7 linked regions of the Homo sapiens genome follow. The protein of the gene in region 7 purifies or fractionates together with the protein of the main gene of each other region. This does not show direct contact. Each region holds a gene or a part of one and is shown on either strand. Other genes may lie near its edges. The genes, in order: NOP2, CCDC86, MAGEA9B, MRTO4, NLE1, GNL2 and NSA2.

What was found.
Region 1: the proteins of NSA2 (region 7) and NOP2 purify together in Homo sapiens (affinity purification with mass spectrometry; 2 studies listed by BioGRID and IntAct, with this or other methods). This does not show direct contact.
Region 2: the proteins of NSA2 (region 7) and CCDC86 purify together in Homo sapiens (affinity purification with mass spectrometry; 3 studies listed by BioGRID and IntAct, with this or other methods). This does not show direct contact.
Region 3: the proteins of NSA2 (region 7) and MAGEA9B purify together in Homo sapiens (affinity purification with mass spectrometry, with the first as the bait; 3 studies listed by BioGRID). This does not show direct contact.
Region 4: the proteins of NSA2 (region 7) and MRTO4 purify together in Homo sapiens (affinity purification with mass spectrometry; 3 studies listed by BioGRID and IntAct, with this or other methods). This does not show direct contact.
Region 5: the proteins of NSA2 (region 7) and NLE1 purify together in Homo sapiens (affinity purification with mass spectrometry; 4 studies listed by BioGRID and IntAct, with this or other methods). This does not show direct contact.
Region 6: the proteins of NSA2 (region 7) and GNL2 purify together in Homo sapiens (affinity purification with mass spectrometry; 4 studies listed by BioGRID and IntAct, with this or other methods). This does not show direct contact.

The regions. Positions count from the first base shown.
Region 1 is NC_000012.12:6,565,492-6,569,559, forward strand, and holds the start of NOP2 (28S rRNA (cytosine(4447)-C(5))-methyltransferase), read right to left. Parts: upstream 2,801-4,068; 5' UTR 2,716-2,800; exon of another isoform or gene 2,648-2,715; intron 2,432-2,647; 5' UTR 2,428-2,431; coding exon 2,325-2,427; intron 1,332-2,324; coding exon 1,286-1,331; intron 1,127-1,285; coding exon 1,038-1,126; intron 846-1,037; coding exon 610-845; intron 1-609. UniProt on the Homo sapiens protein: S-adenosyl-L-methionine-dependent methyltransferase that specifically methylates the C(5) position of cytosine 4447 in 28S rRNA. Required for efficient rRNA processing and 60S ribosomal subunit biogenesis.
Region 2 is NC_000011.10:60,845,113-60,848,346, forward strand, and holds part of CCDC86 (coiled-coil domain-containing protein 86), read left to right. Parts: intron 1-2,811; coding exon 2,812-2,941; intron 2,942-3,234.
Region 3 is NC_000023.11:149,584,660-149,588,933, reverse strand, and holds the start of MAGEA9B (melanoma-associated antigen 9), read left to right. Parts: upstream 1-1,474; 5' UTR 1,475-1,540; exon of another isoform or gene 1,541-1,572; intron 1,573-2,028; exon of another isoform or gene 2,029-2,131; intron 2,132-4,274. UniProt on the Homo sapiens protein: Not known, though may play a role in embryonal development and tumor transformation or aspects of tumor progression.
Region 4 is NC_000001.11:19,250,633-19,254,604, forward strand, and holds the start of MRTO4 (mRNA turnover protein 4 homolog), read left to right. Parts: upstream 1-1,172; 5' UTR 1,173-1,203; coding exon 1,204-1,231; exon of another isoform or gene 1,232-1,616; intron 1,617-3,972. Other genes in the region: EMC1 (ER membrane protein complex subunit 1 isoform 5 precursor), read right to left, coding at 783-877. UniProt on the Homo sapiens protein: Component of the ribosome assembly machinery. Nuclear paralog of the ribosomal protein P0, it binds pre-60S subunits at an early stage of assembly in the nucleolus, and is replaced by P0 in cytoplasmic pre-60S subunits and mature 80S ribosomes.
Region 5 is NC_000017.11:35,128,230-35,132,303, reverse strand, and holds the end of NLE1 (notchless protein homolog 1), read left to right. Parts: 3' UTR 1-1,869; coding exon of another isoform or gene 1,870-2,022; 3' UTR 2,023-2,645; coding exon of another isoform or gene 2,646-2,882; 3' UTR 2,883-3,574; downstream 3,575-4,074. Other genes in the region: FNDC8 (fibronectin type III domain-containing protein 8), read right to left, coding at 1,870-2,022, 2,646-2,882. UniProt on the Homo sapiens protein: Plays a role in regulating Notch activity. Plays a role in regulating the expression of CDKN1A and several members of the Wnt pathway, probably via its effects on Notch activity. Required during embryogenesis for inner mass cell survival.
Region 6 is NC_000001.11:37,578,938-37,582,437, reverse strand, and holds part of GNL2 (nucleolar GTP-binding protein 2), read left to right. Parts: intron 1-101; coding exon 102-215; intron 216-892; coding exon of another isoform or gene 893-1,096; intron 1,097-3,500. UniProt on the Homo sapiens protein: GTPase that associates with pre-60S ribosomal subunits in the nucleolus and is required for their nuclear export and maturation.
Region 7 is NC_000005.10:74,770,249-74,773,748, forward strand, and holds part of NSA2 (ribosome biogenesis protein NSA2 homolog), read left to right. Parts: intron 1-382; coding exon 383-562; intron 563-2,064; coding exon of another isoform or gene 2,065-2,124; exon of another isoform or gene 2,125-2,245; intron 2,246-3,500. UniProt on the Homo sapiens protein: Involved in the biogenesis of the 60S ribosomal subunit. May play a part in the quality control of pre-60S particles.

The sequences.
Region 1 (4,068 bases), on a different chromosome or scaffold from region 7:
CACCACACCAGCTAATTTTCATATTTTTAGTAGGGATGGGGTTTCGCCATATTGTCCAGGCTGGTCTCGAACTCCGGAGCTCAGGTGATCCGCCCACCTTGGCCTCCCAAAGTGCTAGGATTATAGGCATGAGCCACTGTGCCAGGCCAATTTTTTAATTTTTTGTAGATACGGGATCTCCCTATGTTGCCCAAGCTGGTCTCCAATTCCTGGGCTCAAGCAATCCTCCTGCCTCAGCCTCCCAAAGTGCTGGGATTACAGATGTGAGGCACCATACCCAGCCAAAAGGAACAAATTTTTCAAAGTTCTGAGATAACTGCTTTATAAAAAGTGCATTTCTGTGCCCATCAGTGGAGCACACCATTGTCCACCTTCCCATACCTACACCAAGACAGCCTTCTAGATTTTTTTAAATGCTCTATCCTACAGCTCTTTCAAACTTGTAGTGCACTGGGAGGATATAAGGCAGTAGGGAAACAGTGATGGAGCACAAAAACCCCTTTCCTCTAGTCAGGCTTATCCTTGCCACTAAGAAACAGTCTCAAGAATCTGGGAAAGAAACTAAATAGCAAGGATCCTTCTATGAATGCCCAAAAAGATGAATCTCACCGCTTCACCTTCCTCCTCATCCTCAGAGTTGGAGTCAGCTCCATAGTCATCTACCGTATCAGCATCGTCCTCGGAGCCCCAGAGGTCCCCGTGGTTCACCATACCATCTTCTTCAGAGTCTTCCTCCTCCTCTTCCTCATCACTGCCAGGTGCTGGGCGCTTCTTGCCTCGAGGAGCATTAAATAGGGACTGGGGTCCCTTCTTACCAGCTGTCTGGACAGCTCCTGCAGAGATCCCTAAGGGTTTGAAGAGTCCTGGACTAATGGCAGCCACACATTCCCTGGCCCCACACCCTGGGAGCCTGTACTTTCTACCCCTCAGAATGTCCTTTGGCTGTTCCTTTCACTCCGGAAATGTTTAGCGAGTTCTTCCCTACCCAGGACCCAAAGGGACTCCTCATGTAGCATCCAGCTCTTAGTTTCACGGACCTTTTGGTAGCTTTCCAGGCAATGGTTTGGCCTCAGGAGACTTATTTGTCTTAGGGGCTTCAACAGAGCCCAATCTCCTCTTGGCTGCCCTGAAAAGACACAAGAGATTCAAGGAGTGAAGAAATGGGAAGATACTTCCAGGCTCTGCCATTTCCACCATAGGGAAATGTGAGAGTCTAGAATTAACTCTGTGGTCAAAGATGAGCAGTACCAATTTAACCTACTTAAGTTTTGACACCCACACTTACCTCTTTCGAGCACGACTAGACAGCCTCTTGGAATTTTCGTCACTTACTGTTTAAAAAAGAAAAACGAGGCAGAACAAGTTACAGGGGACATTAAAAATAAATGGGAACGGAAATAAACATGGTAAGAGAATTAGTACACTAATTAAAAGGAGTCCATTTAAATCTCAGCCCTGTTATTATTTAATAACTGTATACAAGTTTCTTTTTTTTTTTTGAAATGGAGTTTCACTCTTGTCTTCCAGGCTGGAGTGCAATGGCGTGATCTCAACTCACTGCAACCTCCTTCTCCCAGATTCAAGCGATTCTATTGCCTCAGCCTCCCATCACCACACCCAGCTAATTGTTGTATTTTTAGTAAAGACAGGGTTTCACCATGTTGGCCAGGCTGGTCTCGAACACTGGACCTCAGGTGATCCACCTGCCTCGGCCTCCCAAAGTGTTTCCTTAATAGTGCCTCTCTCACAGGACTCTAAGATGATTAAGCGATATAACATGACCAACAAGTTTAATACAGTGCCCAGGACTTCCTACTATCTCAATAAACTGCATCCTTTATCCAATGCCCAACACAAACTCCCGGTCCAGTGTTACCTCCCACCAGTCTTCCACACAGTATACTACTACTCGGCATGAAGCAGCCAGATCCGTGCTTTTCCATTTCCACCCCTTCCAAAAGGCAAATCAGTGACTGACCCCTCCCCTTCACTACTTCCTCTTGCTACAATGTTACCCATTTTTCAAAACCCAGCTTAACAAAAACTTTTACAGTTCTGCATGGGCTCCCCCTTCCTCTGAACTCACAATTGTTTTAAATCACACTTTTCCCTTGCATGAATAATAGTTGTGTCCGTGTCTTCACATCTCTACGACCTAAACAGTTCCCTACAATCTAAACGGCTGTTTCATTCATACCTCCTAGTAACTCATACAGAGAAGATTCCACTTAAATATAAAATGAACAGAAACTAAAAAAGAGAAGAGGTTATAATACAGAATACTGCAAAAGCTGAGGGATCAGGAGGCCACAACTAATCCTTACCTGCAGGCAAGAATCTGACGAGTTCTGTCTCGGCACCCTTCTGCTTCCGGGCCTTTCGGCCTGGCCCCCGCTTCTCCTTCGTAGGGTCCAACTTGCGCCCCATGGTACTGTGGCAGGCAGAAATGGGAGAAGGTGGCGTCGCGCGTGTCGGAGGGAACGGCAGAACGCACGCTTGGCGTATTATAGTGGGAAAGGGCACAGCCTCAACTCAGCACCCGCAACTCACTCAGCACTCCCGACTCAGCACCCGCGACTCAAGCACCCCCGCTATCCCCCTGGAGGCCCGACCGAACGCCCTCCCACCTGAAACCCAGGTAGCGCACCCTTCTCCCCACGTCCCAGACCAGGTCAGTGCTGCCACTCTTCGTCCCCCAATTTCCTCTAGACCCACCAGAATGCGGGTTAATGTCCGAGAGTGCCCTTCGGGCGGCCCTCCACGTGCAATCCGGACCTAGCTTTCGGCCGGCACTCGCCACAGAATCGTTCCACGCAGGCGCACGGGTAGCGCTAGCCTCGCGGCCCCGCCTCTTCCTGTTGCGCCTAGTCGGCCGCCGCACCCGGAACTTACGCTCGCCCTGGGAACGCCAGCGGAGCCGGCGGCGGCGAGTAGGGGGCAATTCGAAGGAGACGCGCAGCTTACACCCGCGGCGGGTGGAGGGAGCAATGTGACGAAACCATTGAGCTTGACCGACCTTCCCTCATGGAGTTGGCTTTTAGCCTCACGGCCGGTTTCTGTTGGGTGAAAGCCGCACCTTCTCCTCGAACCAGGGCCCGACATTGGAGCCCTCTCCCTCGCATCCACTGCCCTAGTCCAGCGTCAAGATCACGGAATTCCAGGCTGGGCGCAGTGGCTCACGCCTGTAATCCCAGCACTTTGGGAGGCTGAGGTGGGTGGATCACTTGAGGTCAGGAGTTCGAGACCAGCCTGGCCAATATGGTGAAACCCTGCTTCTACTAAAAATACAAAATTAGCCGGGCGTGGTGGCGGGCGCCTATAATCCCAGCTACTCGAGAGGCTGAGGCAGAATTGCTTGAGCCCGGGAGGCGGAGGTTGCAGTAAGCCGAGATCGTGCCACTTAAGCCTCACCAAGAGCGAAACTCCACCTCAAAAAAAAAAAACAAAAAAACCAGCCGGGCTCGGTGGCTCACGCCTGTAATCCCAGCACTTTGGGAGGTCGAGGCGGGCGGATCACGAGGTCAAGAAATCCGAGACCATCTTGGCCAACCTTGTCTCTATTAAAAATACAAAAATTAGTTGGGCATGGTGGCTGGCGCACGCGTGTAGTCCCAGCTACTCGGGAGGCTGAGGCAGGAGAATCGCTTGAACCCGGGAGGGGGAGGTTGCAGTGAGCTGAGATCGCGCCACTGTACTCCAGCCTGGCAACAAAGCGAGACTCCATCTCAAAACAAACAAACAAAAAAAACCGTGGAATTCCATGCCACTTACCTCCTCCTCTTTGCCCCTTTTTTAAAAATCTTTTTATAGAGACGGGTTGTAGGGGGTGGCGTCTCACTATATTGCCAGGGCTGGTCTAGAACTCCTGGGCTTAAGCGATCCTCCTGCCCCCACCTTTGTGCTGAGATTACAGGCTGTGAGCCACCGTGCCCCGCCCTCCCAGCACCTTCCTTGATGCTGACCCCTGCTCAGCCCCTCAATTAAGGTGCTGCACTGCACCTCATTCGCAGGGGGCCTCTTCGCCGGAACTCGCTTTCAGGTGGGTCTACAATTAGTTGGGAAACAACG
Region 2 (3,234 bases), on a different chromosome or scaffold from region 7:
GGAAACAGTATCCAGGCAACAGGAAAGGGATGTTCAGAGGTATTGAGGCGGGAGCAAGCTCCCGTTTGAGAGGCTTTCCAGAGGTCTCGCTGCTGGAATGAGGGGGAGAAGGGGAACAGTAGGAGATGAGGTCAGAGAGACAGCAGGACCTGGTGACCCTTACAGGGACTCCCGGCTTTCCTGAGTGAGCTTGGGAGCCATGGAAGGGTGTCAAGCAAAGGAATGAAATGACCTGACTTGTGAGATCAGCCTGGCTACTGAACACAGACATAGGCGGGCAGGGGTGAAGGCAGGAAAACCCACAAGGAGGCTGTCTCAAGAGAACTAAAACAGCTTCCGAAGCTGCAGGCAAGTCTGTGGCGAGGGGCCCAGCAGGGCCACTGAATGGATGTTTGGGATCTTTGAGGGAGCAGCTTCGGTGGGTAGTAAGTGAGCCTGGAGATGGGTGGGAAGCAGCTCCTGCTGCAGGGAGGAAGACAGCCGCAGCTGGGAAAGTGTATGTGGTGAGGGAGACCTGGCTGCAGCCCTGTCTTCGTGCTCATGCCAAACGCCACTTTCTCCATAGTGCCCTTGGGCATGCTGTCTGCCTTCTCTGAGGAGTAGCATTTATGGAGCACCTATTACGTGTGTGTGTCGATTAAATCTCCCACCACCCTTTGGGTTAGGAATGATTCTCATCTCCACTGGACAGGATGCTGAGACTTAGAGAGGCTACCTTGCTCCAGGTCACCCAGGTTGGACTTGGAACCCAGGCCTGAGTTTCCTCAATACCCAGGTAGAACCAATGGTCTGGAACTGCCCTGCCTCAGTACCTTAGCCGCCAGCCACATGTGGCTATGTACATTTAAATTAATTAAAATTAAATAAAATTTAAGATTCAGTTTCTCTATCAACACCAACCACATTTCTAGCGCTCAGCAGCCACCCATGACTAGTGGCTACCTTATTGGACAGTGTCAATGTGGAATGTTTCCACCATCACAGAACGTTCTGTTTGACAGCCCTGCTCTACACAGATGCAGCACTGTGTCTTGTGGTTCTGTGTGTCTCTAGGCTCCCAACACCTTGTCCCTTCAGGGTTCTCGTACCCCAGCTTGGGAAGCCCAGCTTTACAGTTATGGGGGAAGTCCATGTGGCACCCCATTCTTAGTGCTTAGGAGGCCAGGCCTTCAGTGGCAAGGCCTTGGGAAGGGGAGAAGGAAATCAGGGAGCTGGGGCCAGAAGTCGGCAGGGCCAAGGGACACCAAAATGGGCCTTGAATCTTTAAAAGAGAAAGACCTAATTTCAGCATGTGGAGGCCACCGAGAGACTTCTTTGCATTTTGTTTTTACTTTTTTTGAATGGAAATTTTCAAGCATACAAAGAAAGAGCAAAGCTCTCAAGTCCCCATTATCAGCATCAACACAGCTCAGCATTTTACTAGTGTAGCTTCATCTTTGATACTTGGCTTTTTTTTCTTTTTTTCTTTTTTTTTGTTTTGAGACGGAGTTTCATTCTTGTTGCCCAGGCCAGAGTGCAATGGAGCAATCTCGGCTCACCGCAACCTCCGCCTCCTGGGTTCAAGCGATTCTCCTGCCTCAGCCTCCCAAGTAGCTGGGATTACAGGTGTGTGCCACCACACCCAGCTAATTTTGTATTTTTAGTAGAGACAGGGTTTCTCCATGTTGGTCAAGCTGGTCTCGAACTCCCGACCTTAGGTGATCGGCCCACCTCAGCCTCCCAAAGTGCTGGGATTACAGGCGTGAGCCACTGCGCCCGGCTGATCTTTGGCATTTTTTTTTCCCTGAAATATTTTAAAGTACATCCTAGACATATCATCCCATTCATAAATCCTTGTAGTATGCATTTTTACAGAGATGAGCTCAGTTCTCCTGTAACTCTAAAATCATCGTTGCTCTTTTCAGATTTCCCTGAGAGCCCTGATGCCCACTTCATCTCCAACTGGGGGAAGAGATTCTTTTTCTTTTTTCTTTTTTCTTTTTTTTTTTTGAGACAGAGTCTTGCTCTGTCACCCAGGCTGGAGTGCAGTGGCGCGATCTCGGCTCACTGCAACCTCCACCTCCCAGGTTCAAGCAATTGTTGTACCTCAGCCTCCCAAGTAGCTGGGACTATAGGCATACACCATCACACCCAGCTAATTTTTGTATTTTTAGTAGAAACTTTAGTAGGTTTTAGTAGGCTTAGTAGGTTTTGCCATGTTTGCCCGGCTGGTCTCCAACTCCTGGACTCACGTGGTCTGCCCACCTTGGCCTCCCAAAGTGCTGGGATTACAAGCATGACCACTGCATCCGGTCTTGGCGGGGAAGATCCTGAATCATTACCCAGAACTTTAACCACTCACACTGTTCTGAAATGGAATGGGCCACCTCCCTAGGGGGTGAGCGCCCCGCCTCCAGAGGCATTCACACCCGGGCCAAATGCACTTGGCGGAAGCAACAGAACTTTACAGCAGGGGCCGCGTAGCCTGGACTCTGCAGTCGCTGACAGGATTCAAGTCCTGACTGCCACAAGGTATCTTTAGGCAGCTATTTAACCTCTCCGCGCCTTGGCCTGCTCCTCTGTAAGTGGAGAGGATAGGAGTACCCACCTCAGAGGCATGTAGCCAAGGCTTGAGAAATGGCAGCCAGCACGATCAGGGTTCCCTCCCGCCCCAAGTTTCTGCAGCCCTGGAAGGCCGCCTGTCAGGCCAGCAAGGAGGTGGTTCTGCCTGGGCTCTGGGGAAGAAGGTCCAGAGCCTCCGGCCGAGAGGAGACAGGGCATGGGTGGCGCTTGCCCCACAGACCCTGTATGCACCCACTCTCCCCCTTTCAGATTCTCCCAGATGCTTCAGGACAAGCCCCTGCGCACATCGTGGCAGCGGAAGATGAAGGAACGACAGGAGAGGAAGCTGGCCAAGGACTTTGCCCGTCACCTGGAGGAGGAGAAGGAGAGGCGCCGCCAGGTGAGGGGCCAGCCAGGCTGAGGCTGGGGCTCAGAGGACTAAGCTAGTGTCTACTGGTACAGACCTGAGGCGAGGGCCTCCACGGGTGCCTGGGGGAGGCCGACTTGGTTAAAAAACGTTCTTGAATCTGAAGGCCGGAGGGAGGAAGGGCACCTGGCCAGAAGCAGAAGTGCAATCTGGGACTACAGGGCAGGGAGGCCCAGGGGACCATACAGTTTAGCCTGGGCTGCTGAAAGAGCCTCAGGGACAGGGACGGAGGGGGAGGACCAGAAGCGGGCCTTGGGGAGAAGCCC
Region 3 (4,274 bases), on a different chromosome or scaffold from region 7:
AAATACAGAGTGAGTGCCTTAACTGTCATTGCCAAAGTGACAACCAAGCTCAGGTTGCTGTGCTCTGCTCCCCAAATCAACCCCGGAAAAAATATAGGAGGGAAAAGATTAAAAAAAAAAACCCATCAAAACAGAGAAAGCCCTGGGGATGACTGAAGACTGTGCTAAACTAGTACTTGTGTTTTGGGTCCAGGGAGCAGCAGGGAAATCGAGGAGGTCTGTACCCTGCATAGATGGCAGATTACAGGATGGATAGGAGAAAGTGTTTAACATTCCACCCCACATCATCGCGCAATCTGAGGCAGCACCACAAAATCTGATGCCAGTAGCCCTGGAGTAATATCAGGACACCAGGAAATTTGAGTTGATTGAGACACTATGGCTCCAGAGTTCTGCTAACAACCACCTGAAACAAACTTAGTAGGAGAAGACCAGCCTTCCAAAAAATTATTATTTTAATGGAATATAAAGAATGAACTAGGAATAGAATAGTAAGTATGTGTGAAGGCCACATACTATGAGTAGATATTAATAAAATATGTGTGCATATATATAGTATAAAGTCTAGAAATACAAACGAATATGTAGCTAAAGATATATACATGTAAGTAAATATAAGATATAAAGATATATATGCGTGTATGTATACATATAAGCATAGATGTATATAATGTCTAAAACAGGTATGTATATAAACGTAGATATAAACAAAATGTACAATACCATATATAATGTACACATACAGTGTAAAATTTATTACCATGTGAATGAGAATTAAAATATGAAAATCGCTAATCTGGACTCTGCTGTGTTCGATACCTTCAAAACACATGGCTTCTCCAAATCTCTTGCTGCTGCTCAGCCTCTTCCGTGTAAAAATAAATCTTTTAGGACAAAAGGTTTGCAAAGTCTAGCTCTGGCTGGGGAGGAGCCCCCATGGGATGGTGTGCATCTTCTCTCACAGGTCCTACAATCACAGGTGCTGCAGCCCCCCAGGGAGCATCTAGCCTGGGACCCGCAGCCATTCTCTGCAACGCGTGCAGCTGGGCAAATGCTCAAAGGTGACATAAACAGATCATCTCCCACACATCACTTCATCAAAGAGCCAGGAGCCAGGAGGAGAACCCTCCTGAGAGGGGACTGAAGGTCCAACCTCCCCACATAGAGGGGCCACAGAATCCAGCTCAGCCCTTCCTGTCAGCCCTGGAAGACCCTGGCAATGTTGTCACCCCGACCACACCCCTCCCCTCACTGCCACCTCATGTGACTGGGAGTCAGAGACTTGGTCCGAGAGGAGCAGACCCAATGGGCAGAGAATGGGGATCGAGACCCAGGCATCAAGGTCAGGACCCCCTGAGGGATGACTGAGGGCCCCTATCCCCATCCCCACCCCTACTCCGCCAGAACCCGGTTCAGCCCCTACTGGCAACCCAGGGAAGCTCCAGGCTTGGGGGCCGGATGTGACGTCACTGACGTGCGCACTGGGGGTCAGAGAGAAGGGAGAGGCCTCCTTCTGAGGGGCGGCTTGATACCGGTGGAGGTAAGCTGGCCGAGGCTCTGTGAGGAGTCAAGGTGAGGTGCTGAGGGAAGACTGAGGATGTCCCCACCCCAGATAGAGGACCCGAAAGAACCAAGTGCCGTCTCTGCTCCCAGCCCTGGACCACCCGGGGGCCGATCTGGGGCTGACTTGTGAGGCTGGGCCGACCCCCTCCCTCCGCCGCTCAAGCTGCTGGGCACTCTGGAGTGAGAGCTTGGTGTGACCAGGGCAGGGCTGGTTAGGAGAGGGCAGGGCCCAGGCTCTGCCGGGCATCAAGGCCAGGACCCTGAGGGAGGCTGGGCCCCCCCAACCCAACCATGACCTACAGCCCCAGGTTCCCCAGCCCCATCCTCAGCTCCACTCTACACCCCACCCCACCCCACCCCACCCCACCCCAAACTCCACCCCACCCCCCCAACTCTCCCGCGGCAGAATCTGGTTCCGCCCCTGTTGTCAACCCAGGGAAGCCCCAGGTGCCCGGATGTACGGCCAGTGACTCCCACACTGGGGGTCAGAGAGTAGCGGGGGCCTCGCTGTGAGGGGCGGGTCGATATCGGTGGAGGGAAGCGGGCCCAGGCTCTGTGAGGAGGCAAGGTGAGACCCTGAGGGAGGACTCAAGACCCCCCGCCCCAGATAGAGGACCCCAAATAATACAGCGCCGCCCCTGTGCCAGCCCTGGACCACCCCGCGGGGTCGGGCGTATCAGGCTGGGCCCAGGCTCTGACTGGCATCAAGGTCAGAACCCTGAGGGAGGGCTGAACGCCTCCACACCCCTAACCCAGCCACCACCACCATGACCTACAGCCTCAGGTTCCCCACCTCCATCCTCACCCCCCCCCCACTCCACCCCACCCCCAAGTCTCCCGTGGCAGAATCCGGTTCGGCTCCTGCTGTCAACCCAGGGAAGCTCCGGGTGCCCGGATGTAAGGCCTCTGACTTGCGCACTGGGGGTCAGAGAGTAGCAAGGGCTTGGTTCTGAGTGGTGGCTGAAGATCGGCAGAGGGAAGCGGGCCCAGGCTCTGTGAGGAGGCAAGATGAGACGCTGAGGGAGGACTGAGGACGCCCCCACCCCAGATAGAGGGCCCCAAATAATCCAGCAGCACCCCTGCTGCCAGCCCTGAACCACCCCGGGGGCGGACTTCTCAGGCTGTGGGCCACCCTTCGCCACCCCACCACTTAAGCCCCAGGGGACTCTGGGTCAGAGCTTGGTGTGACCAGGGCAGGACTGGTTAAGAGAGGGCAGGGGCCAGGCTCTGCCAGGCATCAGGGCCAGGACCCTGAGGGAGGGCTGAGGCCCCATAGAGGGAGTCACTGCCCCTGCAGTGGACCCTGGGAAGTTCCGGGCATGGCGGTCAGGCAAGCGGATCGTGATATCTGCATCCTGGGCTGACCGAGGGAAGGGGCTTGGTATCGTTAGCGTGGCCGCGGGAGAACAGAGGGAGGGCCCAGGTCCTGCTGGGAGACAAGGGAGGCCTGAGGGGACCCAGTACCCCAGGACAAGGGGCCCACCCCGCCCCTATCTGAGACCGAGGCCCCTCCTCATTCAGCCTCGGGAATCCGACAGATAGAGACTCAGGTCCACAGAGGGGTGGGGCCCAGCCCTCTAGGAGACCAGGGAAGGAACAAGACGGAGGACAGAGGGGACCCCGGAGTCCAGCTCAGTGGGGATCTTGGCCTGGGCGATCCCGGGCACGGTGGCCGCATGTGGTGCATTGTGGCTGGTGGGATCGGGTGTCAATGGGAACAGGGCTGTGGTATGAGGAGTGGGGCCTCAGGTGAGCAGAAGGAGGAGTCCCAGAGGCCTGAGGAAGGATTCACCAGACCTCTCATCCCAGACCTAGGAAACCTGCCCCTGCCGTCAGTCTTGGAAGGCCCCAGGCAGGACGGTGAGGAAGGGAAGTGCCCCCTCCACCCCCAACACACACTTTCTCAAAGAGGGTCTAAGGGAGAAATTGGCCTTGGTCTGCAAGACTCACCTCTGGTTCAGCAAAATGGAAGGGGCCAGATTCTGTCAGAAGCAAATATGAATACCTAGAGGACACCCAGACCGACGAGGCCCCCTGGAACCTGCTCCTTTGGTCAGCCTTGGGTATCTCATGCATGAGTGACCATGAGGTGGCCCCTCACTTCTGCCTCCCGGGTCTCCGGGAGGTGGGGGCCTTGGTCCGAGGGGTTTCCTCAGCTCAGCAGAGGGAGCCACACCTGGTCAGCACAGGGTGGAATCCAGGGTCTTCCAGGAGTGACGGGGAGGAAGTTTGGTGAGGACTGAAGGTAAGAAGGTACCTCCACGCTCTCAAAAAAGAAAGGACCTCACAGACACTGGTGTCACCTGTTCTCAGCCCCAGGTGGCCCCAGGCAGGAATGGCATGAGGCATGCTCTCATTTCTCCCACGTGACTGGGGGTGAGAGGTCTCAGGGAGGTGAGTACCTTGATCCCAGGGGGCACTGAGAGATCCAACAGAGGGCTCCACACCTGGTCAGTAGAAGGAGGACTCCCAGGATCAGCAGGACCCAAGGTGTGCCCCCTTCATGAGGAATGGAGGTACCCCCAACGCAGAAAGAAGCCACCCCACAGAGTCTAGGTGAACTCTGTTCTTAGATCTGGGGGCGGGGGGGGGCCTGATCAAGGATGGTGCTAAGTGGCAAGCTCATTTGTACCATGGCAGGAAGTTGAGGAACCCTCAGGGGGATGAGGCGTTGGTGTAAAGGGAGATGTCTGCTCATCTCAAGGGTTTGA
Region 4 (3,972 bases), on a different chromosome or scaffold from region 7:
GATAACGCTTAATGACTGCATTCAATGAGCCAGGCATTGTGCTAAGTAATTTAATGGGATTGTCTCATTCATTCTCACAAGTACTGTAAGAGATAACGGACTGTTAGTAAACCCATTCTACAGACAAAGAAACCAAGGCACAGAGTGGTTAAGTCACTTTCCCCAAGATCACACAAGTCTTAACTAGTAAAATTCAAACAAAAGCAAGCTACTCCAGGGCCTTAAGGAAGACGTGGGTGGGTGAATGAATGAATGAGTGAATGGCATATTCTAGCTGCTTAGTGTTTTGGGCAATCCTGCTGTGAGCCCAGGGCCAGACTAGGTTGATGAGAGGGGAAAAGGACTCAGTTTAGGACTTTTAAGACGAAAGCTCCTGTTCACTTGCCTACAAGACACCAATTCGAGTAGGAATTAAAGTTCACTGACAGCTTGGCGACCTCTGACACCTGGTAGACCAGAAACCTCACAGTCAAAAAAATCGAACCTGACGAGGGAGGACGGGATCAGTGATCTCTGACCGGCACCCCAAGCATTCCTGGATGGCAGGGCCGGCTTACACGCAAGGATCAGCTTAGAATGACCCCTAACACTTGGTTTAAGGCTCTGCTTCCAACGACTTTAAATCCTTAATAATTTTTTAACAAGGGGCCCCACGTTTTCATTTTGTACTGGGTCCTGCAAATTATGCGGCCAATCCTGTTAAGTGACAACCTTTAGCAGGTAGGAGACAGGTACTGGGGAAACAGCCACTTATCTCTCGAATATGTTCCACACGTACGCACCAATCAAACTTGCCCACTTGGTCTTCGTAGACCGCGGCCGCAGGAATCAGCAGCGTAGCCCAAAGCCAGAAACGAGAAGCCCACTCAGCCGCCATGATGCGAGCGCATGCACCACCCACCGCCGTCCCGGCATGCACCGCGCCGCGGGCTCCGCCTCCGCGGGACCACAGAGCTGGGATAGCGCGCGAGGCCCTCGGTCGGACGGGACGCTCGGGATTCAGGGACTGCCTCGGCACACGGGAAGTTGCCCTACAGGCGCGGGAGAAAGCGCAGGCGGCGGCTTGGCAGGGAGAGGCAGGCTGCAGTGCACATTGGGTCAGGCACACGCGAGGGGCAGCCCCCGAGGGCCGTCCCAGAGTCCCCCGCGCCGCCGGGGTCCTAACGGGGTGCACCGTCTTCCGCCGCACGTGGATTCAGCGCGATGCCCAAATCCAAGCGCGACAAGAAAGGTGGGCGAAGGGGGAGTCGGGACCCTGGGGGGAGCTCCGTGGGCTGGCTACCCAGCCTGCGGTGAGGGCTTCGGGGCGGCGGGGGCGCAGATTGGAACGCCAGGACATCCTCGAGGTGTTCCGCTGCCTCGCTGCGAGCTGGAATGGGGGCTTCGGGGCTGTAAAACCGCCAGAGGTGGCTGACGCCCGGTCGGGTCTGGGGAGCGGAGACTCGTTTTGCCTAGTTTCAGGTGCTCTTGCAAGGCCAACTGGGTCGGGAGGCAGCTCCTGAACACCGCCCCCGGCTATGCCTGCTGCCGTTTCGGCCCACTTTTCCCAACTTCGGCCCTTTCTCATCTTCCTGCGCTCCCGCCACCCTGGCTGCCTTTCCCTTCTTTCAGCACAGGTTTGTTCCCGTGTCTGGCGTTGTGTGTCTGCGGTTGTTTCTGCCTGGCATGCTTACATCTTCGTATGGTTTGCGCCTTCTTAGTTGTCAGTTAATAGGATCCCTCTGAGACAGGGTCTCGCTCTGTTGCCCAGGCTGGAGTGCAGTGGCGCGATCGTAACACTGCAGGCCGGATGCGGTGGCTCACGCCTGTAATCCCAGCACTCTGGGAGGCCGAGGCGGGCGAATCATCTGAGGTCGGGAGTTCCCGACCAGCCTGGCCAATATGGTGAAACCCCTTTTCTACTAAAAATACTAAAAATTAGATGGGCATGGTGGCAGGTGCCTGTAATCCCAGCTACTTGGGAGACTGAGGCGGGAGAATCGCTTGAATCCGGGAGGCGGAGGTTGCAATGAGCCGAGATCGCTCCACTGTACTGCAGCCTGGGCACGACAGAGCGAGACTCCGTCTCAAAAATAAATAAATAAAATAAGTCACTGCAGCCTTGACCTCCTTGGCTTAAGCGATCCTCCCACCTCAACCTCCCGAGTAGCTGAGACTACAGGCGCACGCCACCACACCCAGCTAGGTTTTTTTTGTTTATTTTTTATAGAGAAGACTCAGTGTGTTGCCAAGCTGGTCTCGAACACCTGGGCTCCAACCACCCTCCCTGAGTGCTGGGATTACAGGCGTGAGCCACTACACCCGACTTGCGCACCTCTTAAGAGACCGTTTTTGACCACCTTTGCTGTGGTGGCCTCTCTCTTAACCCGGCTCCCTGGAATATTCAAAAATATTTAGGGGTCTGGCACTTTCTAGGCGTTAGAGGATACAGCAGTCACAAGGAAAGCCTATTTCTTATCGAGCCTAACGTTTTAGGAGAAACATATTCCGCAAAATGCTAAAAATCAGATTGAAAATGGGGTGAAGAGATGTTGATATTTTGTATAGTGTGGTCGGGAAAGGTCTCACTGATGAAGTGACAAATGAGCAGAAAATAAAGAAAGGAAGCGAGCAACCTGTGGAATTGAGCAGCTGTGGAATTATCTGGGAGAATGCTGTTCCAAGTAGAGGGAACCTGAAGTGAAAAGGCTCTGAAATGGGAGCAGATATGACGTGTTTGGGACAAGAGGCCAGTGAGGCTGGAGCAGAAGGAGCCAAATAGAGTTTGGGGAGGGAGTTAGGCAGAGAGGGCAGGACTTCCTCGGCCTTGGCAAGGCATTGGCTTTCCTGCCCAGGTGAAGTGAGTAGCAGAGGACCCATGTGATTTACCTTTACTTATGAAGGGTCACTCTGGTTGCCTTGGTGAGAATAGTTGGGGAAGACAGGGCAGAGGGCAGGAATGGAAGCAGTGAGACCAGCATTAATCCAAGACAGGGTGATGCTGGCTTGAGCCAAAGGTATAACAGTGGAAATGATGGGAAGTGGCCCGCTATATTTCGTTTGCCCTCCTCTGCTCCACTTACCATTGACTGATGTCATTGTCTTTGTCTGTGTGGTACCTAGTTAAGAGGGGCTGAGTGCGGGCAGGTTAAAGAAGAGAGGCCTGGGTCCCTTTGTGAAGGCGCCCGGGGCTTTGCAGTTGGAGTTCTGTTAAGTGTTTCTGGAACGATTTGATTCTGTGGAGGGGCCTGGGTCAGGTCTGGCAAATGCCAAACTCTGTGGGTAGAGGGCAAATTGGGCCCCAGCCATTTTTACAGTAGAGGTACATGTTCCTCCCCAGAGAGGTGTTGCTGCGTCTTTGGGTCCAAATTGCAATACTGGGGTGCAGATACATACCAGGAGATTCAGTCCCCAGCCTCATGGTTGCACAGCATAGGCCAGCTAGAGTGGCCTCTGCATCATGGTCAAGAGCAGCAAGGGGCCAGGCATGGTGGCTCACACCTATGATTCCAACACTTTGGGAGACTGAGGTAGGCAGATCTCTTGAGCCCAGGAGTTCGAGACCAACCTGGGCAACATGGCAAAAGCCATCTCTGCAAAAAATACAAAACTCACCTGGGCATGGTGGTGCATTTCTGTGGTCCCAGCCAAAATTAGCAGGCCATGGTGGTGTGTGCCTGTAGTCCTGTGTGGGAGGATTGCCTGAGCCTAGGAGCTCAAAGTTGCAGTGAGCCCAGATCGTGCCATTGCAGTCCAGCCTGGGTGACAGAGTGAGACCCCATGTCAAAAAAAAAACAAAAAACAGGGGCCTGCCTCAGCCAGCAGGTGAGGTCTGCCACTGAGAGCACTTCTAGCAGCAGGAACAGCCTCCACCCCCACACTGCAATCAAGTTTTTTGGGTCAGCCTTAGGAGCTAAGAAAGGCCTAGTTTGTCTAAATAGCAGGAGTTATATCCAGGGATCTTCAGGCCCAGGAATGCTAATGAGTAGGCAT
Region 5 (4,074 bases), on a different chromosome or scaffold from region 7:
TGCTGTCCTCGATAGACCGGAATGGGGTTTTCCCACAGATCCCCGCCTGTGGCACACCCCAGAGCCAGAAATCGAAGGTCACAGGAAGTTGTCACTGAACTTGGCCCGTGTCTGCTACTCTGTACCTTGCTGGTACAGACAGGGGTGGTGGGCAGCCAGGCTCTATGAGTGGGCCCCTAGTGTCAGCTCTGTACAGGGTCAGATCCCAGGTTCTATGACCAAATAAGTAACTTAAGTTTTGTGTGTTGGGTTCTAATTCCTTGTCCTAGAATCCCCATGACTCAATCAAGGACTGTGCTAAATGAGATTGTCCAGCCCCCGCCCTTGCACTGGACTACGCCAAAACCACACTGACCAGGCACTTGCCTTCCCTCTCTTCCCCCGTGTTGGTAAGAGAGAGGCCAGTTGTGATAGTGGCCAAGGAGAATCTAGGGCTGTATTGTTGTCCACTGCAGTAGGCACCGGCCACATGTGACTGCTGGCATGAAATAGAAGTGCAGTTCCTCCATCGCACTGGGTAAGGCCTCCAGTATTGGACAGCACACAGAAAGGTTTTCATCATCAAGAGAGTTCTGCTGGTCAGCCCTGCTCCAGGGGATGCCTCTGCCTTCGCATAGCACACTGCTTGAGGCCCTGCCAGGCACCAAGCACTGCCCTGGGCCCATGGGATAGAGCGGGGAAGGTGATGGCTCTTCCAGAGGATTCCCTCAGATGGGGAGGCAGCAGTATGAGCTCTGAGCAGAAGTGGGTATTGTTGATACAGAGGAAGTTCTTTGCCACGAGAACTTTCAAGCAGTGAAAGGAATTCCCATCAGGACTCAGACCCCAGGCCGAGATCTTGCCCTGAATGTACCCTGCCTCTGCTTTCTCCTGCATCCCATGCTAAGCAGGGTCATGGTCTGAACTACTCAGATTGGATTTCCAAACCATCCTTGTATAAACTGCTCAGAACTAGCATCTTGCTCCTTCTTACCCTCCTCCACCCTTGTCTGTGCTTTTGGGTTTTGCGCGTCACCTAGCTGTGGTGCTTGGCCTCCACCTTGCACATATCTGCAGTGAGGCTACATAAGAAGCGAACAAAACTATCAGCCACTGAGCTCCTTGGTGCCAGCTGTTTGTCTGCTGTGCTCTCAGACTGCACCAGGCCTGGAAGGTTCTCAAGCTCCAAAACTTTTGATGAGGAAACAACATAAGAAATGATTAGCCCATGCCCTCACATCTAGTAAGAGAAAGCTGGGATTAAACCAGGCCCTGCCCCAAAGCTTATTGTGCACTTTGTACCACATCCCTCCGTCCAGAGCTCAAGCTAGTTTGACAGTTCATGGGCCACCACGTCTGTCCATGACAGCTATTTCTGTATTTTTCTGGTGTAAGAGCCTTTTAGTCTTAGAGCACCAGTCTCCCTGTTCCCCTACCCCGCCCCACTGGGGAAGGGGTGATGGCAGCATCCTATTGCCTAGCTGCCTGTTTTCTATCTCCCCACCCATGTAGACTCTGTCCTGGTGGAAGCTAGGAGGTGGGTGCCAGCCAGCCCATCTGAGGCTGTCTGCAGCATAAAGCAGACTTTAGGGTGCTGGATGACCTGCAGTTCTTTAATGAGGGACCTAGACCCAGCCCAGATTTGGAGGAGGAGGGAGTCTAGCAGCTGTGGGCAGTGGCTGAGCCTGGCATGGCCTGGCCTGAGATGCCTCCAGGTGAATGGGGCCCCTATGTAGCCTTGGCCCCAGCCCAGGGGTGGGGTGCCCATACCACTCTGCCAGACCCCGGGCCCGCAGGGTGCTGGTGGTATGGTAGGTCTCATGGCTCTGGTTTCTGAGGGCCTGGGGTTGAAGCTGAAAGTAGGTGAGGGGTGTCCTGGGGCCCTCCCCCTTAACAGGGAAATAGGTATTCCAGATCCTCCAGCCTCCGCATCTCCTCCGGCCCGATGGACACGATCTTTTGCCGGGGTTCCTTGCGCCGCACGGTGATCTGGATGGGGTAGTTCTCAGGAAAGCTGCTGAAGTCAGTGGCCAGGGTTGCAAACTGAAGTGAAACAAGAAAACCCTTCAGAGTTCCTTCCCAGATCTGAACCTGGCTCTCTCTCTGTCTCTATCACCCCTTTTTTTTCTGTCTGCTGACTCAGACCTTAAACAGCCTTATCCAACCTAGCCATTGACGCAGGAAACAGGTGCAAAGATGCATGACTCAAGCCTGTACCTCCTCATTATGGGATATTTCCAACCAAAGGGCTGTCTGTACTCAGGCCTCTATACCCCCATACCCCTACCCCATACCCAGGCTGTTCCCTTCTTCGTCCCCCTTTAGCCTCTTGTCTTCCCTATTTCTTTCAATGCCCTTGACTTCCCAGCCTACTCACAATCATGGGCACTGAATTGCAGAGTCTAAAAACCAATGGCTTTGGAAGGGGAACATTATAGTGATGTTGAAAAATACATTCGTTTGCATTCCTAGTGGGCCCCAGAGTGGCTTAATCCTTAAACCTCCCAGAAGCATGCATTCTGGAATTGATGCTTCTTGACCCAGGCAGAAGGAAAGCTAGCCAGATGAGTCATGTGGGCATAGGGGTGTTCCCAACCTCCAAAGCCCTGGTTCCCTGGCTTTGGACTTCTCTCCACCCCCAAGGCCCCTCTTTTCCCAGGGCTCACTTTGTAGGGCTTGCACCACTTCCCCACCCCAGCTGTGTTGGCTGCACGGACACTGAGGCAGTAACACGTGTTAGGCTTTAGCTCCATCAGCTTGACAGTAGTGCCCAAAATCTTGTTGAAGATCCATGGACGATTCTTTGCCTCGGGCAACTCATTCTCCTGTGTCTTGGCCACCTCCTGTAACAGGAGCTGGTAGAAACTGACCGGCTGCTTGCCCAAGGCGTAGGTCCAGGAAATCTAGGGGAAGAGAGAGCCCCGAGGCTTCCTCAGATATGTCCTGTCCTTCCTGTCCCTTCACCCTCCCAACTGGGGTCAGGACGTCCCATGCCCATCCCCTGCTCCTGCTGGGGCCCAGGCAGGTCAGATGGAAGGTGCAAGGTACTGCAGCACTGAGTGTGGAACCCCTGCCCCGAAGCATGTACTACTCTCCTGGGCAGCCCCACCCACTTTAGGGTACACCCTCATTCCATATTTCTTATACGCCAGGGGTCCTCAACCCTTGGGCCACCAACTGATAGCAGTCCATGGCCTGTTAGGAACTGGATAGCACAGCAGGAGGAGATTGGTGGGCGAGCAAGCGAAGCTTCATCTGTATTTACAGCTGCTCCCCACGGCTCAGGGTACCACCTGAGCTCTGCCTCCTGTCAGATCAGCAGAGGCATTAGATTCCCATAGGCACGTGAACCCTATTGTGAATTGTATGGGAGGGATCTAAGTTGAATGCTCCTTATGAGAATCTAATGCCTGATGATCTGTCATTGTCTCCCATCACCCCCAAATGGGACCCTCTCGTTGCAGGAAAACAAGCTCAGGGCTCCCACAGTTTCTACATTATGGTGAGTTGTATAATTATTTCATTATATATTACAATGTAATAATAATAGAAATAAAGTACACAATAAATGTAATATGCTTGACTCATCCTGAAACCATCCCCCCAACCGGATCCATGGAAAAATTATCTTCCATGAAACCAGTCCCTGGTGCCAAAAAGGTTGGTTCTAGACTCTGTCTAGACTCTGTTAGCTGAGAGGGACCTTAGAGATCATCTTATCGACTAGGTCCAGAGAGGGCAAGTGACTGGTCCATCATCATACGGCAATTAAGTGACAGCCAGTGTTCAAACCCATAGCTCCAGAGCCCATACACTTTGTACTACAATGGTTGCCAAGCCTGGCTAAGCATCTCAGGGAGATTTTGTAACTGCAGATTTCTGGGCCTGCTGCCTCCTGTCTGGTTTCTCCTCCATCTAGGCCAGTGTTTGTCAAACTTGGTGTGCATTAGAATACCCTGGAGGACTTATTAAAAGATAGATTACTGGGCTCCGCCCCAACAGTTTCTGACTCAGGAGGCCCAAATGTGGTGGAGGGAGATGAGAATTTAAATTTGTAACAATTTGCTGAGTGATGCTGACATTGTCCATCTGGAG
Region 6 (3,500 bases), on a different chromosome or scaffold from region 7:
CAGTATATTTGAAACAGTTCTGTAATTCAAGCTCTGATTCTTCCACATAATGTAAATAAATGTACTGCAGTTTACCAAAATGTTTTCATCTCTCCTTCTAGAAACGGTGGGTTGCTGTCCTCTCCCAGGATTATCCAACACTTGCTTTCCATGCAAGCCTTACTAACCCGTTTGGCAAGGGAGCATTCATTCAGCTTCTGCGGCAGTTTGGAAAGGTATTGAGCCCTGATCTGTTTCTCCTGGAGTTGTGTAGCTGTGAGTTGGTATAAGAATCTGTCTTGCCATGGCATAGCAGAAAGTTGCCAACTTCTTAGCCGGACGTGGTTGCGCAGGTCTGTAGTCCTAGCTACTCAGGACGCTGAGGCAGGAGGATTGCTGGAGCCCAGGAGATCAAGGCTACAGTGAGCTATGATGGCACCACTGCACTCCAGCCTGGGTAACAGAGCAAAACCCTGCCTCTAAAAAAAAAAGATGTGGCCGGGCGCGGTGGCTCACACCTGTAATCCCAGCACTTTGGGAGGCCGAGGCAGGCAGATCACAAGGTCAGGAGTTTGAGACCAGCCTGGCCAATATGGTGAAACCCCGTCTCTACTAAAAATACAAAAATTGGCCAGGCATGGTGGCACACGCCTGTAGTCCCAGCTACTGGGGAGACTGAGGCAGGAGAATCGCTTGAACCTGGGAGGCGGAGTTTGCCGTGAGCCGAGATTGCGCCACTGCACCCCAGCCTGGGCGACAGAGCGAGACTTCTCAAAAAAAGAAGAAGAAGATGTAAAAACTTCCAGAGATGTAAAAACTCACAGAGCATCAGGATTATAAGAGATTCTGAAGTGTTTTCTTGCTCAGCCTTTGCCCCCATCCGTGACCAGTGTTGCTTCCATTTCTGCCACAGCCCTGGCACCTGACGTTCCACGCTCTGCTGGGCTTTCCAGGCCTGCTGTGCATCCTCTGCCCATGGAGCCCATGCAGCTTCTATGTCCTCTGGTTGGAGAGGGCCCTGCCAAAATTCAAGCTTCAGATCCCTGGTCAGACGTCAGCTCCTGAGGGAAGCCGTGGAACCAGACTACCCTATCAAATTCTTAAAGCTTCATGTTCTGTACCTGTCATTTTGAATTTGTCTATTTAGTTAATTCTACCTGGCTTCTAACAAAAGACACATGTCTGCTGTCCCACCCTTCCCCACTTTACAGAAGCAAATGCTTCCAATAGCCATTAGTTCTGTTATTTTCCTCCATATTTTTAGTACATGCTTATGATTTTCTTGATCTGTGCCCACCCCTCACCCCCAGTTTAAGATGCTTATTAATTTCTTACTATGGAAAATGAGGATTTGCTATCTTATAGCCATCCTCTCTCTGTATGTACTTCCCCCTGTATTGTTAGATGCCAATGTTGGGTTACAGTATTATTCATTCAGTGTTGGTTGGTTGTTGTTGTTGTTTTAACTTGGAAAGGAGAGCTTTATTTCTCATAAAGGGTTGCAGCCTGCAGGGTGGCCACTCTAACAGGCTGGGAAGAGTAGTCTTGGCCATTCAGTCTTTACATTGTCATGACTGTAAAATATTAGTCACAGCTGATCCACATGGTGTGCTATGAGTATAATTCCTTTCTGATCGAAGCTTTTATTTTCGCTAGTGTTACTTTGCTGTGTTCTATTTGTATCTGTCACTATCATACTACCAAATTCTCTGATACAGTGGGAACTGTCAGAGCTTCCAGGCAGCACAGGTAGTTCCCTTCGGTGGCCAGCACTCCGTCCTCCGCAGGGCTGGCCGCTCTCCAGGCTGCTGCAGCGTCGTCTTTCTGGGATTTCCTTTCACTGTCATCCAGAGAATTCCCATGGCTGTTTTCCTGTATGGGACCTCTTATTTATAGGACCTCTTTTCTTCTTTTCTGGTTTACTCCTTTCTTTCCATGGGACATATTTTCCAAAAGTTTCCTGAGAAGGAATACTTGGAAAGAACATTTTTTTGAGATACGCCTTGCGTTCTGAAAATATCTTTATTAAGATCTTTATTCTACCCTTTATGCTGTTTTTCCTCAGAATACTGAGGTTACCACTGCACTGTCTTCTGAATTCTGAGGAATCTGAGGCCATTCTGACCCCTCATACTTTGTGTGGCTGTGATTTCTTGTTTTGAGACAGGGTCTTGCTTTGTCACCCAGGCTGGAGTGTGGTGGCACAACCACAGCTCACTGTAACCTCAAACTCCTAGGCCCAAGCGATCCTCCTGCCTCGTTTTGGCCTCCTGAAGTGCTGGGATTACAGGTGTGTGCCACCACGCCCAGCCAATCTTTTCTTATTCTAAAATTTAAAATTTCTCTTGTTCTAAAATTTCACAGTGGTGTGTCTTGAAGTGGGCCTTTTATTGCTCAGTGAGCTTGGCGTTTGATGAGACTTTAGTCTGATATTGTCTTACATTATTTCTTTGAAATTTTCTTTCCTCCCTCAGTTGTCTGTATTCTTGTTCAGAAATTTGCTTTTACCTCCTGGTTTAATTCTTGATTTATATTTGCTTTCTTTTTTTTTTTTTTTTTTTTTGAGGCAGAGTCTCACTCTTGTCACCAGGCTGGAGTGCAGTGGTGTGATCTCGGCTCACTGCAGCCTCCGCCTCCCGGGTTTAAGCGATTCTCCTGCCTCAGCCTCCCGAGTAGCTGGGACTGCAGGCACACGCCACAACGCGCAGCTAATTTTTGTATTTTTAGTAGAGACGGGTTTTCACCATGTTAGCCAGGATGGTCTTGATCTCTTGACCTCGTGATCCGCCCGCCTCAGCCTCCCAAAGTGTTGGGATTACAGGCATGAGCCACTGCACCTGGCCTATATATTTTTTCTTTTGGTACATATATGACATTTTCCTCTATTTTCTGGGTACTTTTTTTTTTTTGTGAGACAGAGTTTTGCTCTTGTTGCCCAGGCTAGAGTGCAATGGCGCGATCTCGGCTCACTGCAACCTCCTCCTCCCAGGTTCAAGCAATTCTCCTGCCTCAGCCTCCCGAGTAGCTGGGATTACAGGCATGTGCCACCACACTTGGCTAATTTTGTATCTTTAGTAGAGACGGGGCTTCTCCGTGTTGGTCAGGCTGGTCTCAAACTTCCGACCTCAGGTGATCCGCCCCCCTCGGCCTCCCAGAGTGCTGGGATTACAGACGTGAGCCACTGCTCCCGGCCACTTTCCTTGTTTTGATCATCCAGCTGCCCAGTCACAAAATTTATTTTGCCAATTGCTTTTAATTTTTAATTTCTGAGAGCTCTTGTTGAATTCTGATTTGCTCTGCCTCCTTTTACATCTTATTTCACAGTCACAGTATCATTAATGACGTTTTGAAATTTTCCTGTCTGCATTGATTCTGTTACCTCCAAATTTTTGTGGGTTTTTTTGTGTTTTCTGCTACAGTCACGCTTAAAAATTTTTTCTTTTACTTTAAAAATTTTTTTGAGACAGGGTCTTGTTCTGTCTTAACCCAGGCTGAAGTGCAGTGGTGCGATCATGGCTCAC
Region 7 (3,500 bases):
TGTACCCAGGAGGCGGAGGCTGCACAGTGAGCCAAGATTGTACCACTGCACTCCAGCCTGAGCAACAGAGCGAGACTCCATCTAAAAAAAAAAAAAAAAAAAACCACCACATTACAGGTGGTATTTTCTCACCCATAACACAGCATTAAGATTTTTAGCTTAAGCCAACCATTTATTTAACATACCCATGATATATAAACTTGTTCTGTTTAATTTGCAGCTTATGAGACAATACAGACCTCTAGAAGACGGTTGAGCCAAAAATGTGTTGATGGTCAAGCAAAAAAAATAGATCTATTACTTTGTACAACTAAAACATATTTGACTTATTCTCATTGTCCTTTAATAACAATATAAACTTTTAACTGTGGCATATTTTTAGGGAAAATGGGAAGTCCCTCTGCCTAAAGTACGTGCCCAGGGAGAAACAGAAGTATTAAAAGTTATTCGAACAGGAAAGAGAAAGAAGAAGGCATGGAAGAGAATGGTTACTAAAGTGTGCTTTGTTGGAGATGGCTTTACAAGAAAACCACCTAAATATGAAAGATTCATCAGGCCAATGGTAAGTCCTTGGAAGAGTGTAATGACCGAAATGTTAGTTGACTTTATTAAATCGGATAAAGAACATTATCATTTCCTGAAATTCTTTAAATTGATGTGGAACAGGTTGAAAGATATTTTTATGCAATTTTTGTTATTTTATTGACAGAAGTTATTTAGTACTTTTTCCACTAGTCAAAAATCTTTAGCCCAGTGCGGTGGCTCACACCTGTAATCCCAGCACTTTGGGAGGTTGAGGTGGGTGGATCACCTGAAGTTAGGAGTTCAAGACCAGCCTGGCCAATGTAGTGAAACCCTATCTGTACTAAAAAATACAAAAAATAAGCTGGGCGTGGTGGCGGGCGCCTGTAATCCCAGCTACTAGGGAGGCTGAGGCAGGAGAATCGCTTGAACCTGGGAGGCGGAGGTTGCAGTGAGCTGAGATCACGCCATTGCACTCCAGCCTGGGCAAGAAGAGCAAAAATCCGTCTCAAAAAAAAAAAAAATCTTTTCAGCTTCGTGAGAGATTTGAAAAAGTAGTATCATAAGACATTGTCAGTGAATTCTGACTTTTAAACATGACATATTAGAATCTTCATTTTCCACAGTCATATTTTCCTCATTAAACTAGTGATCTACAATATGCCTGATATTGTCTAGGTCTCAAAACACTTCTTGTCTTTGACAGCAGTTCGAAAACTTGAGTAGGACTGTTTTATAAGAGTCAATTCCAGTTTGATAAGGAAAGTATCTAAATGCTTTTGAAAATCATTGAAAAGCCGGGCGCGGTGGCTCACGCCTGTAATCCCAGCACTTTGGGAGGCCGATGCAGGCAGATCACGAGGTCAGGTGATCAAGACCATCCTGGCTAACACTGTGAAACCCCATCTCTACTAAAAAAAAAAAATACAAGAAATTAGCCGGGCATGGTGGCGGGCGCCTGTAGTCCCAGCTGCCTGGGAGGCTGAGGCAGGAGAATGGCGTGAATCTGGGAGGCAGAGCTTGCAGTGAGTGGAGATCATGCCACTGCACTCCAGCCTGGGGGACAGAGCAAGATTCTGTCTCAAAAAAAAAAAAAAAAGAAAAAAAGAAAAAGAAAATCTTTGAAAAAAGGAAGATAATTTAATATAGCTTAATTTCTGTTGAAGGCAGCAATAGTAATGTGACCCCAAACTTCCCCACCCCTGGGGAGAAACATAGTTGAAGATATATTTTTGCAAAATCCCTTCAAAGAGACTGAACTATTCTCCCAGTTAGATACACAGCCTCAAAAAAACAAAGTATCAGAGAGAGGAAAGTTGCAACATGCCATAATCCTAGTGTTCAACCTGAGTAATTTTTTTTTTTTTTTTTTGGGACGGAGTCTCCCTCTGTATCCCAGGCGGGAGTGCAGTGGCACGATCTCGGCTCACTGCAAGCTCCGCCTCCCGGGTTCTCGCCATTCTCCTGCCTCAGCCTCCCGAGTAGCTGGGACTATAGGTGCCCGCTACCACGCCCGGCTAATTTTTTTGTATTTTTTTGTAGAGACGGGGTTTCACCGTGTTAGCCAGGATGGTCTCGATCTCCGTGATCCGCCCGCCTTAGCCTCCCAAAGTGTTGGAATTACAGGCATGAGCCACCGTGCCCGGCCAACGTGAGTAATTTTTAATAGATTAAAATATTGGCAAATAGCCTGTTTCTGTAAATAAAATTTTAATGGAACACAGTCATGCCTGTTCATTTACATATTGCATAACCCCTACCCCTAGAATTGAGCAGTTGCAACAGAGGCCATATGGCCTGACAAAGCCTAAAGTGTTTACCTATTGGGTTCTTTACACAAAATGTTTGCCCACCCCGGATTATATCATGGACTCGACTTGTTTTGGTTTCATATTCATAGTCTGAATATATTTTGGTAGCCTTAACAGTTCTACAGGGAGAGAATATACAAGTCAGGCTATTCTAGGTTTTCTGTAGTTTCACAGATTTGTCATTATAATCAGATGGCATCCTGAATGGTGTCAGTTTCTTACAAGCTTGATTAATGAGTCTGTTACTAAGAAACTGATTTAGTGATTTTTTCCCCCCATCCCCATGCACACAAAAATGAAGACTGCAAAATGTTGTGACGTTTAAAGTACTACACCCTAAAAGACCTTATTAGGTGACTGGGTGACTCCATAACCAGTTTCTGTAACAAAGACTCCTCTGGGTCTCCTCCAGTCTCATATTGCCATCAACCTAAAGAAAGCTGACAGTCCACTCCTTTTTTCATCATGGAAGGTAGCCGAGTTATATAAAGACTTGGAATCAGGATATTAAGGTTTGAGTCTGTTTACCACTCACCATTTAATCTGGAAACAAGTCATTTAACCTGCTGATCCTTGTTACATCATTTGAAAACAGAGGAGAGGGGATGTGTTTGTTGTGAGGTTATTGTGTTTAAGTGAGCCAGTTGTGAGCTAGCATAGTGGCCTGGTATATATAAAGTCCTTAGTAAGTCTAAGTGTAGATGACTAGACAGTAAAAATCTGGGTATGTTGCTAGGTAGCTATTACAGGGTGAAAAAAAAAAAAACTTTTCAGAGGCTAGCTGTGGTGGCCTGTAATCCCAGCACTTTGGGAGGCTGAGGTGGGTGGATACGTTGAGAGCCCAGGAGTCCAAGACCAGCAGGCAACATGGCGAAACCCCATCTCTACCAAAAAAAAAAAAAAAAAAAATAAGCTAGGCATGGTGGTGCGTGCCTGTAGTCCCAGCTACTCAGGAGCCTGAGGTGGGAGGATGTCTTGAGCCCAAGAAGTCCAAGCTGCAGTGAGCCAAGATCACGCCACTGCACTCTGGCGTGGGCAACTGGGCAAGACCCTGTCTCAAAAGAAAAAGAAATTCTTAAGTATTTGTGTGGGTGTTTTCCCCACATATTTATACTGTAACCATCAGCTTTTTACTCTGTAAAACATATTTTGTTAGCTTCTTTAAGA